Regions from separate parts of the Homo sapiens genome. Here region 2 is linked to region 1. The links come from fine-mapping of genetic effects on gene expression. A gene starts in region 1. The other region holds a variant in brackets. All regions are shown on one strand. Distances are between the middles of the regions. Region 1 holds the start of CASTOR1 (cytosolic arginine sensor for mTORC1 subunit 1). Region 2 overlaps TBC1D10A (TBC1 domain family member 10A).

Evidence for each region. PIP is the estimated chance that this variant, and not a neighbour inherited with it, causes the effect.
Region 2: its variant is the best candidate, but not a certain one, in a credible set for the expression of CASTOR1 in whole blood (INTERVAL, PIP 0.60).

Annotation. Positions count from the first base shown.
Region 1 is chr22:30,285,451-30,293,996 of GRCh38, forward strand. CASTOR1 (cytosolic arginine sensor for mTORC1 subunit 1) reads right to left here and starts at 4,055. Exons shown (of 9, transcript NM_001037666.3): 1 at 3,935-4,055; 2 at 3,256-3,326; 3 at 1,923-2,110; 4 at 1,705-1,837; 5 at 1,375-1,498; 6 at 813-926; 7 at 566-648; 8 at 382-476; 9 at 1-238. The coding sequence starts at 4,047. The coding sequence ends at 170. TBC1D10A (TBC1 domain family member 10A) reads right to left here. Exons shown (of 9, transcript NM_031937.3): 7 at 8,471-8,546; 8 at 8,201-8,355; 9 at 6,540-7,401. The coding sequence ends at 6,925. RefSeq lists silencers at 3,713-3,792, 3,993-4,432 and an enhancer at 5,313-5,372.
Region 2 is chr22:30,311,423-30,319,968 of GRCh38, forward strand. The region is part of intron 1 of TBC1D10A (TBC1 domain family member 10A); the gene reads right to left. Among named protein-coding and RNA genes, the nearest start is that of TBC1D10A, 11 kb to the right of the region's middle. RefSeq lists an enhancer at 3,416-3,475. The variant A/T (reference allele first, on the strand shown) is at 3,187.

The sequences.
Region 1 (8,546 bases):
GTGTCCGCGTAAAAGCCGGTGCCTGCACGCAGCTTACATACAGAGAGCGGAACGAGGGTCCCCAGCAGAACAGGGGGCTCGTTCCAGAGCTTAAGGAAATAGCTTAGAGAAGTCTTTGGAAGCCTGGGTCGAGGGGAGAGCAGGGAGGCTGCTCTGTTGCCCATGGGCCTCAGGAAGCCAGGCCTTCCTGCCGCCGCTGGAGGACCTCGATGACGCTGCCGATACCGTCCTCGGGCACCTGAGGGCAGGTGGGCAGGAGGGAAGGGTCAAGGCGGAAGCTGGCCAGGGCCACCCCTGACTTCCTGGCCCAGCTGAGACTACCTCCTGCCGCCCACATTTCTGGGCCTCACTCTCCCCTCTGCCCCAGCCCTTGGTGCTCACCAGGGCGTGGTCGAAGTTGAAGGTGCTGATGTAGTAGGCAGAGATGTCAGCGGCAGCCAGGGGACCTGCAATCTGTGCCACGATGCCACATTCATCTGAGGGTGGTGGAGGAAGGCCACATGTGGCACATGCCGGTTGCTCCCCAGACACTCCCCAGCCCCCCAACACCGGGAACAGCCCTCACCAAAGCCCAGGGGCTGTCCACCGATGCGCACCATCCTCCACAGCTCCCCCGAGGAGCTGGTCAGCAGGAGGTCACTGGGGAACCTGGGGAGGGAGATGGGTGATGGGCAGGGCACCCCCATCCACCCCTGCCTGACCGTGAGCTCTGGGACAGGTACACCTGCTGACCTCAGAGTCTGATGCCCCACCTCCTCCCTGCCTGGGACTGGCTGGGGCCTGGGGCCCACCCGGGGTCAGGGGTCACCTACTTTTTCTGTGTTTCAGCATCCATGACAATGGAGATATAACCCTCGATGAGGGAGAAGGCAAAGAACGTGATGGAGCTGGGTTCAGGACTGCTAGAGGCTGCCTCCTTGGGGGTGCTGGGGAGGGATGGGAGGTTTAGGGGCTCTACCAGGCACCCAGCCTACTGCCCCTGCTCCCGATCAGCCTCCAGAACCCTGGGAAGGAGCTGGTATGGTGGCCTGGGCAGGCTCTGCCATATCTGCTACCCGCCCAAGGGTCCAGCCCTCTGGAAGGTGTGGGTGGGGATGGGGGAGGACAATGAACCCAGCCTGTGCCAAAAACAAAGGATTCCACGGTGAGAGGGCCAGACCAGGGCATGGCTCAGACGACCCCACTGGAAAGGGATCCAGCTTTGGGGCAAGAACCTTCCCCGAACATCAGTGAAGCACAAGTGAGCATCATGGGCTGCCAGGAACCCCAAGAGAGGACAAGCAAGAGGTGCAAAACTGATAGATGGGCGGAAAGTGGTGGGACAGAGTGTAGGGAACAGTGCTGTGAGGACAAAGACGAAGTTCCAAGGTCCACCTGTGCGAGTAGAAGAGGACATCTATGAGGGTGGTGGCGATGGCTGGAAGCGTCTCAGGGTCCAGTGTGAGGACACAGAAGCGGTTCTGTGGGCTCTGGATGGGATGCACCGTGGGGCTGGGCCCTGCTGGAGGACAGCAGCAGGTGAAAAGGTGTCCGTGGGCTGGGGCGCCCCCTGGTGGCTAGTCAGGGAGAGGCGTGGGCCAGGGGCAGGTCTTGCTATCCAGGAACTGGCCGGGGTCCTCCTGCCCCACTGGGGCCCAAAAGGGAAGGGACCCAGTGGGAAGAGGAGGCCCTGCCCAAGTCCAAGTGTCAGGGGGCGGCCCTCACCATGCTGAGTGCGGGGAAAGCCATTGCTGGAATCATCCCTCGTCACAGGCACAGGCTCTCCGCCCACCTCGCGGTAAATGTCGAACTCCTGGGCCAGCGTGTGGATCACCACGGACAGGTCCTGCTCCCGCACCTGGGCCACAGCAGATGGCACATCACATGGGCTCCCAGGTACCTATATCCACCCTGCTCTGCATCAGCACCAGCAGGAAACTCACCAGGATGAAGTCCGTCTGGTAAGTGGACAGCATCAGCACAGACACGTGGTGCTCGGCCAGTGGCGCGATGACCGAACGGGCGATCTTGGTGACCCCAGCAGCCTGCACTGCCGCACCGCTGTGAGACGACACGTTCAGCACCAGCCATGTGGCCTCAGCTACTTGCAGGAACTCAGATGGGGGCAGCTCTGTGGGCAGGGGACATGTCAGGTCAGGGTCTACAAGGCTGGCCCCTGCCCCTCTCTGAGCCTCAGTTTCCCTTTCTGTGCCTTGGAGGGCTCCATCAAGGTAAGGGCAGGTCTGGAGGCTGGGGCTCCTGAAGTCCCTATGTGTGCAAAGACTGAGAAAGGCTTCAAGTGCTGGCCTGGTGGCATTGAAACTTCCCACTTAAGATCAGAGGTCCAGATTCAGACAGACCTGGGTTCAAATCCCAGCTTTGTTAATTTGTCTTATGACCTGGGGTGGGTGATTTGAGTCTCAGTTTCCTCATCTGTAAAATGGGACGACAATATCTACCTCACTACGGTGTCTTCTGTGGGTTAGCAGAAGCTTTGTACCACATGGCACCACCAGGGGGCATTCGCAGATCAGGTTGGCTGGGGGATTGCCTTCCCCTTTTGCAGACCCAGACTTCTGAAGTAAAAACAGGGAAACTAAGGCCTGCAGTGGAGCATGGGGACAGGCTAAGCTCCAGCTAGCTGGCCTGAGACTCCAAGCCTGTGAGGATGGGCAGGGCCAGCAGCAGGAGGAGGAGCTAGGCGTCAGCTCCAGGCCCCAGGGAGGGCCCAGGCTGGCGTCCAGTCCTGAGCTGGGGCCAGGGCCTGGGTGGCTGCTATTCACCCCAGCACAGCCAGGAGGCCTCCAGGACCCTCCCCTGAGATGGCTGCCTGCTCCTGCATTCCTTCCCTCAGACTCCTGGAGTTTCCAGACCAGCAGGGGAGGAGGTGACCCAAACCAGAGAGTAAGACCAGGAGGAAATAATACCCAGGGATTTCTAACAGCAGCACTTGACTGGAATCATAACAGAGGCCCTTCTGCAGGCCTAAGACTGCTGAGTGCCCCTCAGCGGTTTTAAGTTTATAAAGGCCTCATGGGACCCTATGTATCAGAACCATAACTATACCCATTTTACATAAGAGAAAACAGCTCAGAGAGGGAAAGTGATTTGCTCAAGGGCACACAGCCAGGGAGTGGTGGAGTAGGATTCGAACCCCGACCCATCTGCTTTTAAGGCTTAAGCTCTTGGGACGGATCCCAGCAACTGGTGAGAACCCTACAGAAGGGGAGCACGACAAGCCCCTCCCGTACTCCCGTTCCCCAGACCAACCCCCACCTTTAAAGCCCTCCTCGTCCACCATAAGCGTGTAATCCTCAGGGGTCTCCGTCAGGCTGAAGAACTTGCACCTGGTTGGGGGTGGGGAGCATCTTCAGCTTGGTGTGGAGAACTAGGGGTCGGGAGTGGATTTCTCTCCATCTGCCCCGAGACACCCCCGCGACCCTGGGCCGGGCGCCTTCTTGCCCTCTCGGCCTTTAATTTCCAGGCCAATGGGATGTTAGCCCCATCTCGGGGGTTGGGGGCTACTTTCCGGCCTCCCGACCTCTCCAGGAACCCTCCACCCCTCCACTCCTGGAGGGAGGAGAGGTTCACACCCGCGGCGACAGCCCCAGGGGCGTCGGACCTTGGACCCCCTAGTCCAGCCCCTCTGACATGAAGGGAGGCGTCCTGGAAGGAGCTCCCCGCAGTGACCAGGTAGGAATGCCCCCATTTGACACTACTGAGTTAAGCATTGCCCATCCCAGGCTGTTTGCGCTTTGCCCCTGGGAGGGGGCCTCACGGGGCCGGATAGGCGGCGGTCCCCCAGGCCGGATGGCGGCCGGACGGGGAGAGTCCTCCCCACCCGCTCCCGCCCGCCTGCCTGCCTGCCTTACGGCGATCCTAATCCTCCGACCCTGGCCCGGAGCGAGAGCAGAGCCCCCAGCCCCTATCTGCGCTCCCGAACCCGGGCGCGCACCGGCTGCGGCGGGGCAGGAAGAGCAGCTTGATGAGCGGGTGGGTGTAGAGCCAGAGACCGGGACGGGCGACGCTCAGCACCCGCACCCGGTGTTCTAGGATGTGCAGCTCCATCGCGGCTCGCGCGGACCCGACCCCGCCGCCAACTAGACCCAGGCCGCACGGGAGGCGGGGCGGCGGGGGTGGTGCCCGAGCCTTAAAGGAGCCGCTGCGCTGCCGCGTCCACGCCGCCCGCTGCGAGGCTGACCCGCCCAGCCAGGCGCGGCGTCCGGCTCCTTGACGGCCACGCCCCGCGGGAAGAGAAGCCTATTGGGTGGTCACGCCTCCTCCTAACGCCAGAACCTCATCCCGCTTTCCAGCCAGCCCACCGAGACCGCCCCGAACGGCTCCGCCTTTTTTAGTACTGGCTCGGGGATAGACCCCACCCCGTCTGACTCCTCCAGGCCCCGCCCCTGACGCGCCCCCTCCCTGGGCTCCGCCCTTTCCGCGGAAAGCCAGCTGCGCAGCCGGTGGGAGCATCCCGGAGGGGACGTTTCTGTCCTTCTGGCACACACGTGGGTTTCATGATTGAAGTCCTTGAGACAGAAGGGACACGAAACAAACTGGAGCTCGGCTAGGACCAGAACGCTGCCCCCAAATCCCCGGAGCAATGAGAGGCACAGGTCTGCTGTGCAGCGCTGTCCCCCGGGCGCCTTTCGCTCTCCTGCCTCTCATGGCTGCAGGGGGCAGGGCCGCCAACACAGGATTGCGATTGATACCTACCCTTCCCCGCTTGCGAGGGGGCTGACAAATTGAAACCTGGCCTGGTAGCCCCACTTGTTCCTTTCATCCAACTTTCAAAATAGAAGGCTCCTCACCAGGGGCACACAGAGGTAGAATCCTAGCCACCTCTGCCTGAGCGACATACTTTGGGTTAGGGGGCTGCAGGTGGCCAAGGCCTAAGGCTTGAGGTCCCTCGATACCAACAAAACCCGGAAGTGCTTGAGCCAGTAATGCCCAGTGCTCAGACTTTGGTGGGGGAGGCCCTTGCAGCTGAGGTTCAGTGAGTACTCAGACCTCAAGCCTGAAACTTGAGCCCCAAAGCCTGCAGCCCTTAGCTAGCCTGTGCACATCTAAACTTGCTTCAGGTTCAAGGAGGCCCCCGGCACTGGCAGACACCCCAGATCTTATCAGGCCTTCACAGGTCTAAGACCCCCCCAAGGCTAAGCAGGCATCAGCATGTCCATGTTGGCTCCATGCAGGGCTGAGAATGCTCCAGGGGACCCTTGCCTGGCCTGAGCACCCTGAGGCCTCAGATGTGAGGCTTTGAACCAAGTAGACTAAAGCAGGCCTCAGGCCTGATTGGGACCCAGCAGGCCTAAGCAGGCCCTCTGCCTGCTCTGGAGCCCCCACCATAGGCAGATGGAAGCCAAGCTAAGCCTCCTCCCTGGACTCTCGGGCTTGACACATTCCTGTGAAACACTATGTAGCCACCACATCCTGGCCTATCCCCTGGAGGACTAGGGGAAGGAGGAGCTTCTCAAAGGCTGAGCCCATCTCATCAATGGCAGGTGCAGACAGAGTGGGAAACCATGGGGCTGAGGGGAAGGAGGCAGGAAGTGGAGTGGCCTACCCTGATAGTCTCTTGAAACCCTTCACCTCCCTAGGCCTCAGTATCCCCAGCTGTACCAGGACAGGATGTTCCAGGCCCAGGCGAAGGCTGAAAGCTCCCAGGGAGGCTCTGCTCCTCCCTCTCCTGCCCCCTCCCGCTATGGCCTGGCCTGGCCCAGCTTGGTCATCTGCCAGGAATAGCGCTATTGTTTGACTGGAAAAGCTGCTTCCTCAGCAGAAGGGGGGCCTCTCCCAGGGACACCCTGTCCTTGCCCTCACCAGTCATCAGGTTGTGACCGCAGTGCCTGCCTGGGCCCTCAAGGGCAGAGTCAGGTCTCCTGGAGCCCTGGTCAGGAGAGGAAGCTGAGTGAGGGGCTCTTGGTGCAAATCCGGCTGAGGCTTTCCCATTCAGCTCCTGTTTCCTCGTCTGTTAAATGGGGCTAATGGAGCCTACTTGACCAGTCCAGCCTGGCACTTGGCAGTAAATCGAAGGCGGCATTTTATCAAAGAACCACAATTCGCCCCCCTCCCTGAGGGCCTGGGCTGAGCCTGTGAGGACATTCGTGGTGCTCCACTCCGGGCCCCGTCCCTGACCCCAACCCAGAATCAGCTCTCAGAAACTTACTGGAGCCTGAGGTAGCATCCAGGCCAGGACTTGAAGGAGGAAGACCCTGAAACCTCCTCCTTAGGAGTCCCTGCCCCCTTGGTGGGTGGGTGAGGACCAAGGCCTAGGGAGCACGCCCTGCTCTGCCCAGCACTGAGCTCCAGCCCTGGTGTCCCTCATCTGTGGCAGAAGGTAGACATAAGGCAGTGGGGATGGGGTGAGTGAAAATGGGGGTTAAGAATGGGGGCTGACCAGGGACTTGGCATGTCCTCTGGCAAAGGTACCTCTCAGAGAGGCTCTGGTGCTGGGCTGGGGCCCAGGAGAAGGGGCTCTGTAGGGCAAAGAGAAGAGATGCTGAGCACCAAGGTGACCAAGGTGGTACCCCCTTCCCAGCCCCTAGCTGTACACGAGCTCTCTATACAAGGCTGTTTATTTCTGTACAAAACCATGTTTCTATTTTACACAAAGAACACCCCACCCTTTCCCCTCACACCAGCACCCTAACCCTGGGGAGCATCCCCCAGGAGGAGGGGGCTGAAGGAGGCCCCACCCCCCAGGCCCTAGCTTCTGCCTGCCCTGGCTGGGCCAGCCTGAGTGCCACTGTAAAGAAAATAAATAAGGAGGCTCAGGCAGAATCTGTGTTGGACCAGGCAGAATCTGTGTTGGACCAGCCAGACTCCAGCCCAGCCCAGTGGCCAGGCAGCTTGGCCCTCAGAGGGTGGGCAGGATGTGGAATGTCAGTTCATGAACCGTGTAGTTATATGGAGACCCCGCCCTGGAGGCCTTAGCTGCCAGGGTTACAAGTAGGTGTCCTCACTCTCTTGGGACGTCAAGCTCTCCTGGGAGCGGTGGTGGGCTGAGACCTGGGGAGCCAAATCCTGAGGGGCTGAGTCCTTGGGGGCTGAGTCCTTCGGGGGCACATGCTGTGGGGGACATGCATCTCCTGCAGCGGCCACCACCATGGCTTGATTTGGGGCTGGGGGCTTCTCCAGCTGCCCTCTCCCCTTCATCTGTTTCCGCTGCTCCTTCTGGGCCTGCTTGGGTGGCTTGGGCTTGGCTTTGGAGCCAGGGAGGGGGGCATCTAGGGGCAGGCGGATGGATGGTGAAGGTTGTAGGGCAGGCCGGGGACCAGGTTCTGCATCCAAGATAGCCTTGGCACCATGCAGCCTGGGCGGGGAGCGGCACTGCAGCTCACCCCGGGTCTCCTGCCAGCGCCGCAGCTGAATGAGGTGTTCGCGCTCAATCTGGCGCTCTGTCACGGGCAACTCCACCACCTGCAGGGGCAGTGACACAGGCAAGTGGACACCAAGAAGAAGGACCTTCCCCTTCTGCCTCCCAGCCTGGGCCCCCAGTCTTCCTCAGCATCCCCCAGCCTTGGCCACTAAACACTGACCCCAGGAAGGATGAGGGTCTAGTCCCAAGCTGCAGTCACGAGCCCCACAGCTGAGTGCCAGGTGAGCTGGACACTTGAGACCCACCGCCTCAGAGGATAAAGCTGCCCACAGCTTCACGAGTCCACCTGCCTGACTATGGGGCTAAAGGGGTAAGACCCAGACAGACAAAAACCTGCTCTCTGCCAACCTGTCACCCACCGCTGCCCAGGGCAGCCTGGCTGCTTAGGCTCAAATTCCAGCTCCACCTGGGTGGGTGACTTTAAGGGGAGTTGCTTAGTGATTCTGCCTCTGTGAGCCTCCATTTCCTCATGTGTAAAAGCTGGTCACGCATGTTCCACCTAATTGCCCCTGAGAGACAAGTATCCATAAAGAAAGAACAAAGAGAAATAAGAGCCAAGGCTGCGAATGGGGTACCAGGGAGGAAGACGGGGCCGTGGGTCAACATTCTTCTTCATTCCCAAGCGGCTCGGATCCAGAAGGCCCTGCAGAGCCAAGCCTCTCTGTGCCCCATGCTCTTCACCAGACAGAAGGATGAGGTCCACCCACATGTTCTGTGTTGCCTAGCAATGGTCCTGGCATAGGATCCACCCTCAGGGGCTGAGGGTTAGCGGGACCCCCTTCAAAGGACCCCCACCTGTCTTCCTCCCTCCCCATGATAAGGGGCAGGCATGGGCTGTACCTCCTGGACCAGAAAGGCCTCCTGCATGATCTTGGGGCTGAGGCTCCGCAGTCGCTCGATGGTCTCGTACTGGCCCTGGCAGGCTTTGACCTTCTCAGGGGAGCCCAGCGCGTGCTTCAGCAGCACCAGCCCCACCCGGAAGATGATCTTGACCCCTGCATGGGGGATGGGCAGTAAGTACAAGGAAGCTTTTTGGGGTTTCTCTGCAAAGAGAGGCCCCACTGTGGGCTGCTGGGGACAGGGGTGCTCCCCCCAAGCCCAGCCCAGTACCTTCACAGAAGAACATGTCCCAGACACGCAGCACAGAGCTCCAGGGCAAGGTTCGGGAGAAGGCGCACATGAACCA
Region 2 (8,546 bases), 26 kb after region 1:
CTGGCAGTGTCCAGGCTCCCTGTCTGAGTGAGAGAGTCTGGCTTGCTTCACTCTCCCTCCTTCCCAATGCAGGCTAATTCTGGGGCTGCCTGTCTTTCCCATGAGGAATTCCCTGGCTCTGCTCCTTCTAGTGCTGGGTCAGTGCACAATGGTAAACAGGTTCTCTCCACCCTTCACTGGCCTTGGTGCCCTGGACCTCTGCCCAGCTCTCTACTCTGCTCAGCTCCACCCTACTCAGTGTGAGAAATGGTTCCTTTAGCACTAGCCTTGCTGGCTCCCAAAAAGAAAAACCAAGGTATCTACCTTCCTCTGATGCACTCATCTAGGGAAGGGCGTAGACCACAGAGAAACTCCCAAGCAGCTCTCCCTGACAACTGCAGAAAGGTATTAGATAGGGTCTTGCTCTGTCGCCCAAGATGGAGTGCAGTGGCATGATCTCGGCTCACTGCAGCCTCCGCCTCCTGGGCTTAAGCCATCCTCCCACCTCAGCCTCTCGAGTAGCTGGGACCATAGGCTCATGCTACCATGCCCCACTAAGTTTTGCATTTTTTGTAGAGACAAGGTTTCACCGTGTTGCCCAGGCTAGTCTCAAACTCCTGGGCTCAAGTGATCTGCCTGCATCAGCCTCCCAAAGTGTTAGGATTACGGGTATTAGTGACTGAGTGCCGCCTGAGACTATTCTCAACAGAAGACATCTTTTCTCCAAATCCCAGCTCCTACCAGGCAGAGTGCTGCTTGAAATTCCCTTGCTGGTGACTGAGTCCTTGGATCACAATCTCACTGCAGGCACCCAGGGGCCACCCTGACTCATCCTTACCAAACTGCTAGATCTCATTGATAGATCTTACCAAAATTAGTCTTGACTCACTGTTTATATAAGGCCCCTCCTCTGCCCAGACTCGTCCATGGCTCCCTACTGCCCTCATTATCCAACAGAAACCTCAGACCCTGTAGCTGGGCATTACGGCACACGCCCTGTCATCCCAGCTGCTCGGGAGACTGAAGTGGGAGGATCACTTGAGCTCAGGAGTTTGAAGCTGCAGTGAACCATGATTGTGCCACTGCACCCTAGACTGGGCCACTGGGTCACAGGGCAAGACCTTTTCTCAAAACAAACAAAACAAACAGAAAACAAAGAACAATAACAACAACAACAACAAAAACAACACAAAAAACAAAGAAACTTCAGGCCCTGGCTCTCAAGGCCCTCCTGTTCCCCTGCACATCCCTTTCTCCCCTAGTCCCATCTCTATAGGCCCCTACCCCTGAGCCATCTTCCTTCAACCCCCATTCAATTTTGGTGCCATCATCTTGGGAAGCATCATTCCAAACTCCTTCTCATCTCTACAAAGCCTCTCCTAACTACTCCAGGGACAGAACACAATCAGGCCCTCATTATATTCCATGCACACCTTTCTAGAGCCTGTGTTCCAGGCCCTGAATCTACAAAGATGAATAAAATGTGGTCCCTGCCCTTGAGGAGGTCAATCTGGCATCAACAAACAGGTAGGTAAATAACTAGCACACAGAGAAGAAGTGCCATCACAGGAGCATGTAGAAGGGGCTAGGAGACTGCAAAAAGACCCCAGGGTGAGGACGGGCTGTTTAGAGAAAGCTTTAAAGGGGAATTGACTTTTGAATTGGGGTTTGAAGGGTGACAGGAAGTAGCTAGGCTGAGAAAGGGGAAAGAACACACCAGGCAAAACACTCAGTATGTTCAAATGCTAGTTAATAGGAGAGGGAATGGCTTGTTTGGGGAATGTGAGCAGTCCAGTGGGACAGGTGGAGCTTCTCCACCTAAGGGCTGTTCTGCAGAGGCAGCATTTCATGAGAAGGCGCGTTCCTGGAGGGCAGGGGCTCTCTTGGCCTCATTCTCTGCAGTGTGTCCCAAGCCTGATACCTAGCTGGTGCTCAATAAATGTGTGTGTGTGTGTGTGTGTGTGTGTGTGTGTGTGTGTGTGTGTTGTTATTGTTGTTTTGAGACGGAGTCTTGCTCTGTCGCCCAGGCTGGAGTGCAGTGGCGCAATCTCGACTCACTGCAACCTCCGCCTCCCGGGTTCAAGCTATTCTCCTGCCTCAGCCTCCTGAGTAGCTGGGACTACAGGTGTGCGCCACCACGGCCAGCTAATTTTTTTTTTTTTTTTTTTTTTTTTTTTTTTTAGCAGAGACGGGGTTTCACCATGTTGGCCAGGATGGTCTCGATCTCCTGACCTCATGATCCACCCACCTCAGCCTCCCAAAGTGTAGGGATTACAGGCGTGAGCCACCGTGCCTGGCCAACAAATGTGTGTGTTGAGTGATTCATGAGCTTGGTGACCTCAGACACTCTGAATTTCATTAAGTGTTGTCAGCAGTGAAAAGGGAATATGCTCCTCTACCTTGATATCAGGTGGGTAAAGCATAGTAAGAACTTGATAAAGAGCATTCCCTCTCTGGCCTGGTACCAGCTCTAGATCTTCCTCAAAGCCCAGCACAGGGCTGAGCACAGATCTGCTTGATGATGGCATTTTATAACATTACAATTCTAATATTCAATTAACTTAACTGAATGTCTGTTATAACAACAGACGCTTGCTATGCACCAGACACTGTGTTCAGCACTTAACTTACATTATTTCATTTAATCCTGACAAGCCCATGAGATAAATCCTCTAATTATCAACTCCCTTTTGTGAATAAGGAAACTCAGGTTCTTCAGAAAGACAATAACTGGCCAAAGTCCAAGTCAAGCAGGGGATGGCACTGGAAAGTGAATCCGGGCCCTGCTCATCTCTCCCTCTGTCACTCAACTCCACCACCAAGTGCTGTCCAGTAGGCTGGGTATACACAGCCTTGCTCCTGAGGAGCTTGGAGCTCAGTGGACTCAGAGGCACAAGCTGTGTGATGCTTGGCAAGTCACTTTGCCTCTCTGGGACTTGGTTTCTGCTTCTTAAAATGGGGACTATGATGATAAATACTCTCACAGAATTAAACGAGGTGATGTAGGTGAAAGCCTCGTCCACCATACAGGCTCCTCTGTGAAATGGCATTACTGTGACTATCCTGGGAGGATGGAGGGGGTCACTCAGAAGCAGAACAGGAAGCTCAGGATGAAAGTCTACATGGTGCCAGGCACAGTAGCTCACGCCTATAATCCCAACATTTTGGGAGGCAGAGGCCAGAGGATTGCTTGAGGCCAGGAGTTTG[A/T]GACCAGCCTGGGCAAGAGAGTGAGACCCTGTCTCTACAAAATTGTTTTAAAAATTAGCCAGGCATAGTGCTGCATGTCTGTAGTCGTAGCTACTCAGGAGGCTGAGGTGGAAGATTGCTTGAGCCCAGGAGTTCAAGGCTGCAGTGAGCCATAATTGTGCCACTGCACTCCAGCCTGGGTGAGAGAGGGAGACCCTGACTCAAAAAAAAAAAAAAAACCCACCAAAAAAACACAAAAAACCCACAAAAAACCCACAGAGGAGGGTGGTGGTAATTATTAAGCAAACTCAGACTCCTTCCCCAAGTGACTACCACCACCCAGGAGGACAGAGGCCCCGGGCAGCACTCTGGTTGCAAGCCTTGAGTGGAATCTTTCGGGATGCCCACCTTTGCTCTTACTTCTGCTTATCTTTACAGACCAAGGAAAGGGAAGGTCAGGCCCTCAGATCACAGCCCTGCTCCAGATGACTCAGCGAGGAACTCATGGGGGGATTCCCAACCTGCCCTGGCAGGCCAGGAAGCTCCAGACCACAAGCTGAGTGGGACTGGCTCCTGCCTAACCTCCACGGTCGTGGGGTAGGTTGGAAGAGCACGTGAGGGAAGCCAGATTTTCACCCCAAAGCTGCATTGCTCCCTTACCATTATGCTAAATGTCTGAGGTAAAATCTCAGAGGGTAATTTACACTCGAATTGTGAGAGCCGCCATGTTCCACAGAGCCCTTACTTTGTGACAGACACTGTGCTGGGTGCTTTACCAACAACATCTCCCTTAATCCTAACAATACTCCTGCTCCCAATGCCACCGCCACACCCAGCTAATTTTTTTGTATTTTTAGTAGAGATACAGTTTCGCTATGTTGCCCAGGCTGGTCTTGAACTCCTGGACTGAAGTGATCTGTCCACCTTGGCCTCCCAGAGTACTGGGATTATAGGCATGAGCCACAGTGCCCAGCCTAGGTTCTCTTTCTTTGTGAAGCCAAGCGAAGATGAAAGGGAAAGCAGCAGCATTCTCCAAAAGTGGCTGGCCGCGGAAGATCGCTTCTGGACTCACAGTGTCCAAGGCCCAAAGCACTGAGTAGGGACAGGAGTTCTCCGAACTTATGCTCCTTCACTGGGTCACTCACGACCCAGCTACTCCTGCCTTGTCTTGGGGTACATATGAGGAGCTGTGTGTGGAGTCCTGGGACAGGAATTGTGTCATCCATCATGACAACTTAGCAACAAAAACAACCTGAAAAGCCTGGTAGGAGAAGTGCAGACACTTGGGGCTGGGCTGAAGTCCTAAGACTGGGACAGGAAGGGGAGGAGGAGAGGCCACACAGTGGTCACCAACTTTGGTAAGATGGGAAATTAGGAAGGAGGAATGCTGGGTGCCAGGCCCTGTTCCATCACTTGCTCACCCTTGGTTTCCTTATCAGGAAACAGGGTAAAATAATAGCCTACCAATTTCCCATTGCTCCTATAAGGGTTACTGAGAGGCAATGGAAATGAAAGCACTTTGCAGACTAAAGAGCTAGATAAATCAAAGCATCCCTTGATTTGATTACATTCCCAAAGTCCTGAGGGACACCGATCCTGCACACAAAGAGAAGTCCAGCCTGGTATGGTAGTTCATGCCTCTAATTCCAGCACTTTGGGAGGCAGAGGCAGGAAGATCACTTGAAGCCAGGAGTTTAAGACCAAGCTGGGCAAAAAAGTAAGACCCTGTCTCAATCAATCAATCAGAGATGTCCTCTCACAAGAGGAACAGAGCATGCTGGGAGCAGTGGTTTCTGTGGCATGTGCCATGGTGACTCCCCTGAACTTGCGTGGTACCACATAGAGAACTTCTCAAAGCACTGTTTTTGTTTTTGTTTTTTTTTTTTTGAGATAGGGTCTCCATTGCCCAGGCTGGAGTGCAGTAGTGCAATAATGGCTCACTGTAGCCTTGATTTCCCAGGCTCAAGTGATCCTCCTACCTCAGCCTCCCAAGTAGCTGGGACAACAGGTGCGCACCACTATGCCCAGCTAATTTTTAAATTATGGGATGTAGAGATGGGGTCTCCCTATGTTACTCAGGCTTCAAAACACTTTTCATATACTCCACGGTCAGTCTCAGGATGTCAGATGTAGCTGTCTTCAACACCATCCCACTAAAGCTGCCTTAGTTGGCTGGCACAGTGGCTCATGCCTATAACGTAAGCACTTTGGGAGGCTGAGGAGGGAGGATCGCTTGTGCCCAGGAGTTTGAAACCAGCCTGGGCAACATAGTGAGACTCTGTCTCTACAAAAAGTAAAAAAAGTAGCCAGGCATGGTGGCTTCAGCCTGTAATCCCAGCTACTCAGGAGGCTGAGGTGGGAAGATCGCTTGTGCCTGGGAGGTTGAGGCTGCAGTGAGCTGTGATTGCACCACTGCATTCCAGCCTGGGTGACAGAGCCAGACCCTGTCTCTTAAAAACAAACACACATACACACACACATACAAACTGCGTAGTTTTTATGTGGGGAAAACCGAGGTTAAAAAGATTAAGCAACTTTTGACCGGCATGGTGGCTCATGCCTGTAATCCCAGCATTTTGGAAGGCCAAGGTGGGTGGATCACCTGAGGTCAGGAGTTTGAGACCAACCTGGCCAACATGGCAAAACCCTGTCTCTACTAAAAATGCAAAAATTAGCCGGGCATGGTGGTGGGCACCTAAAACCCCAGCTACTCGGGAGGCTGAGGCATGAGAATCGCTTGAACCGGAAGGCAGAGGTTGCAGTGAGCCAAGATCAATTGTGCCATTTCACTCCAGCCTGCGCAAAAGAGCAAAACTCCATCTCAAAAAAACAAAACAAAACAAAACAAAACCAAGATTAAGCAACTTTCTCAAGGTCACACAGCTAGTTAGTGGCTCAGTAAGGCATAGGGTTAAGGTCTCCAGATCTCCGTTCAGCAGTATTTGTTTACACTATGCTCCTAATCCAATTATCTCATTTGATCCTCACAATCCTTTGTATACAACCACACCTGGTAACTTCTTTCTCTTTTTAAAATTTTTTTTAGAAATGGGGTCTCGCTCTGTCACCCAGGCTGGAGTGCAGTGGCACAATCACAGCTCACTGCAGCCTCAAACTCCCAGGCTCAGCCTCAGCCTCTGTAGTAGCTAGGACTACCGGCACGTGCCACCATGCCCAGCTAATTTATTTTTTAGAGACAGGGTCTCACTATGTTGACCAGACTGGTTGAAACTACTTGTTTAATGTCTGATTTCCCTGTGAGGGCAAGATCAGGTCTATATCCTGAGCCTAGCACAGGGCTACACATATAGTAAGTGCTGGGTGAAAAAAACTGGAAGCATTAGCCCCATGGTTGGGTGAGGGATGTGCCTAAGTCACATATTACAAAGGTCAGTGGTGGAGCCATCACTGACACTCTGACCCTGTGCCTGGTTCAGAGCCCTTTCTCAAACACTAGCCTAAAATCCACATTTCCAGCCAGAATCTCTCATCTCCGGATGCCACTGGTGGTGCCCCTTGTAAGTGCTGAGGGGTTTGCCTTCTCACAGGTTTTGTCCCAGCCAAGGCACCACCTCTAAGAACAGAATAAAGGTGCTAGGTGAGGTCAAACAAGCCTCCAGTTGCCAAGTGCCTCCCCTTGATCAGTGTATGCTGTGTCCAAAGGCCCAAACCCACCCTTCCCAGTTGCCATACCACCCTAAGGTAGGTTTTCCATGTCCTCAGGCCCCAGTCCTCTCTTCTGGTTCTCCTTGCATCCTTCCTTATCATCCAATATGTCTGCCAGGCAGAGACCAGGAAGCTCAACACCGCTTATCCTATTCCTTCCCCAACCAGGTCAGCCAACCCACTCTCCTGCTGGAAGGAGACAAAGAACCCCTTGATGTGCCCGGGGCAAGCCAGCCATACCAGGCACCTTGGGGAGCCCAGAGCTGTGACAACGCAGAGTCACAGCAGCCCACTGCCCTCTTCAGAGGAAGGCCACAGCTGGCCTTGCTTCCCTGTAGCCAGAGGGCTCCAGAATGGACTCTGTAAGAGGCCAAAGCCACTTCAGCTAGTCCAGAGCCTTCCTACCTCTCCATCAGCCCACATGGCAGTCATGAACCAAGCACTAATGATTTGCCAGCCTCTTTATCCTCACTGCTCCAGACCTCTTCCAGGTCTCACCACAGCCCTTTTAGGCCATCCTTGATTCTCCCAACAGGTCTCACTGCCTGCAATCCAGCTCCTCTTTATGCCGTCTTCCATGCCAGACCTGGACTAACTTTTATGCAACACAGGAGGCCTCAGCCTGACATTCAAGGCTGGACTCAGACCGCCCAACCCATTTCCTGGACTAACTTTTATGCAACACAAGAGGCCTCAGCCTGACATTCAAGGCTAGACTGAGACTGCCCAACCCATTTCCCTAACCTACCCTTGCTTCGTATCATTCTACTGCCTCCCGTTCTTCTTGTCGTATCATCCTACTGCCTCCCGTTCTTCTTGTCATCTCTGCTCTTGCCACACATGCTCAAACGACTGCTTTTGGGAGGGACTTTGCACATGGGCCCCCTCTCATCCAATGGACTGCCCTGCTTTGCCTCTTCTGAAGCCTGGATCAAATGCTACTACTTTCTAGGCTCCTGCAGGTGGGGCTGGCTGCTTTTTCCTCTGTACTCCCAGAGCAACTGCATGCCTCAATGACAGCCTTCATCACTCAACACTGGAAAGATTTGTCTGTGGTTCTATTTTTCAGCAAGTCTGTGAGTGCCTTGAGGGCAATAAAACACAGACATCTTGTTCAGTTCTATATCTCTTGTCCAAATCACAGGGTCTGACAGAGTAGGTGCTCAATAAATGTGTGGTAAATAAGCTCACTGCTAAGATGGATAAGCTGGCAAAAGTAAGCCTTGGTTTGCTCTCCCAGGCTGCTGGGTCTGCTGAGTATTTCTCTACCTGAAGAGGTGTTGAGTGCTAAGCTATGGCAGCCTCTGAAGACCTGGACAGGGCACAGAATGGAGTAGGGTAGGGTAGGGGGAGGAGAGACGGGAAATGGAAGGATGAGACAGAGAAAGCCAAAGTTGGCAGCTGCCCTGAAATCCTAGGTGGGGGCTTCTAAGCTGGTTAAGTATCAGGAGCATTGACTTGCCAGTGGGGTGGCCAGTACAGTGTTCTCCCTGCTGGAGAGGGTCTCTGGGCCCAGGATTGCGGCAATAGATTTACCAGGGGCAGACTAATCAGTTAAAGGAGGCCTCCTACCCCTCAAGTGTACTGTCTGCAGGATAAAGTGATCAGCTAGGACAACGGATGGATGATGGCAGGGCTCTGCTCTAGTCGGCAATGCATCCTGAGCCTGTAGGCTCAATTACCTCGACTGAGGAAGAGAAAGGGGAAGAGAATGG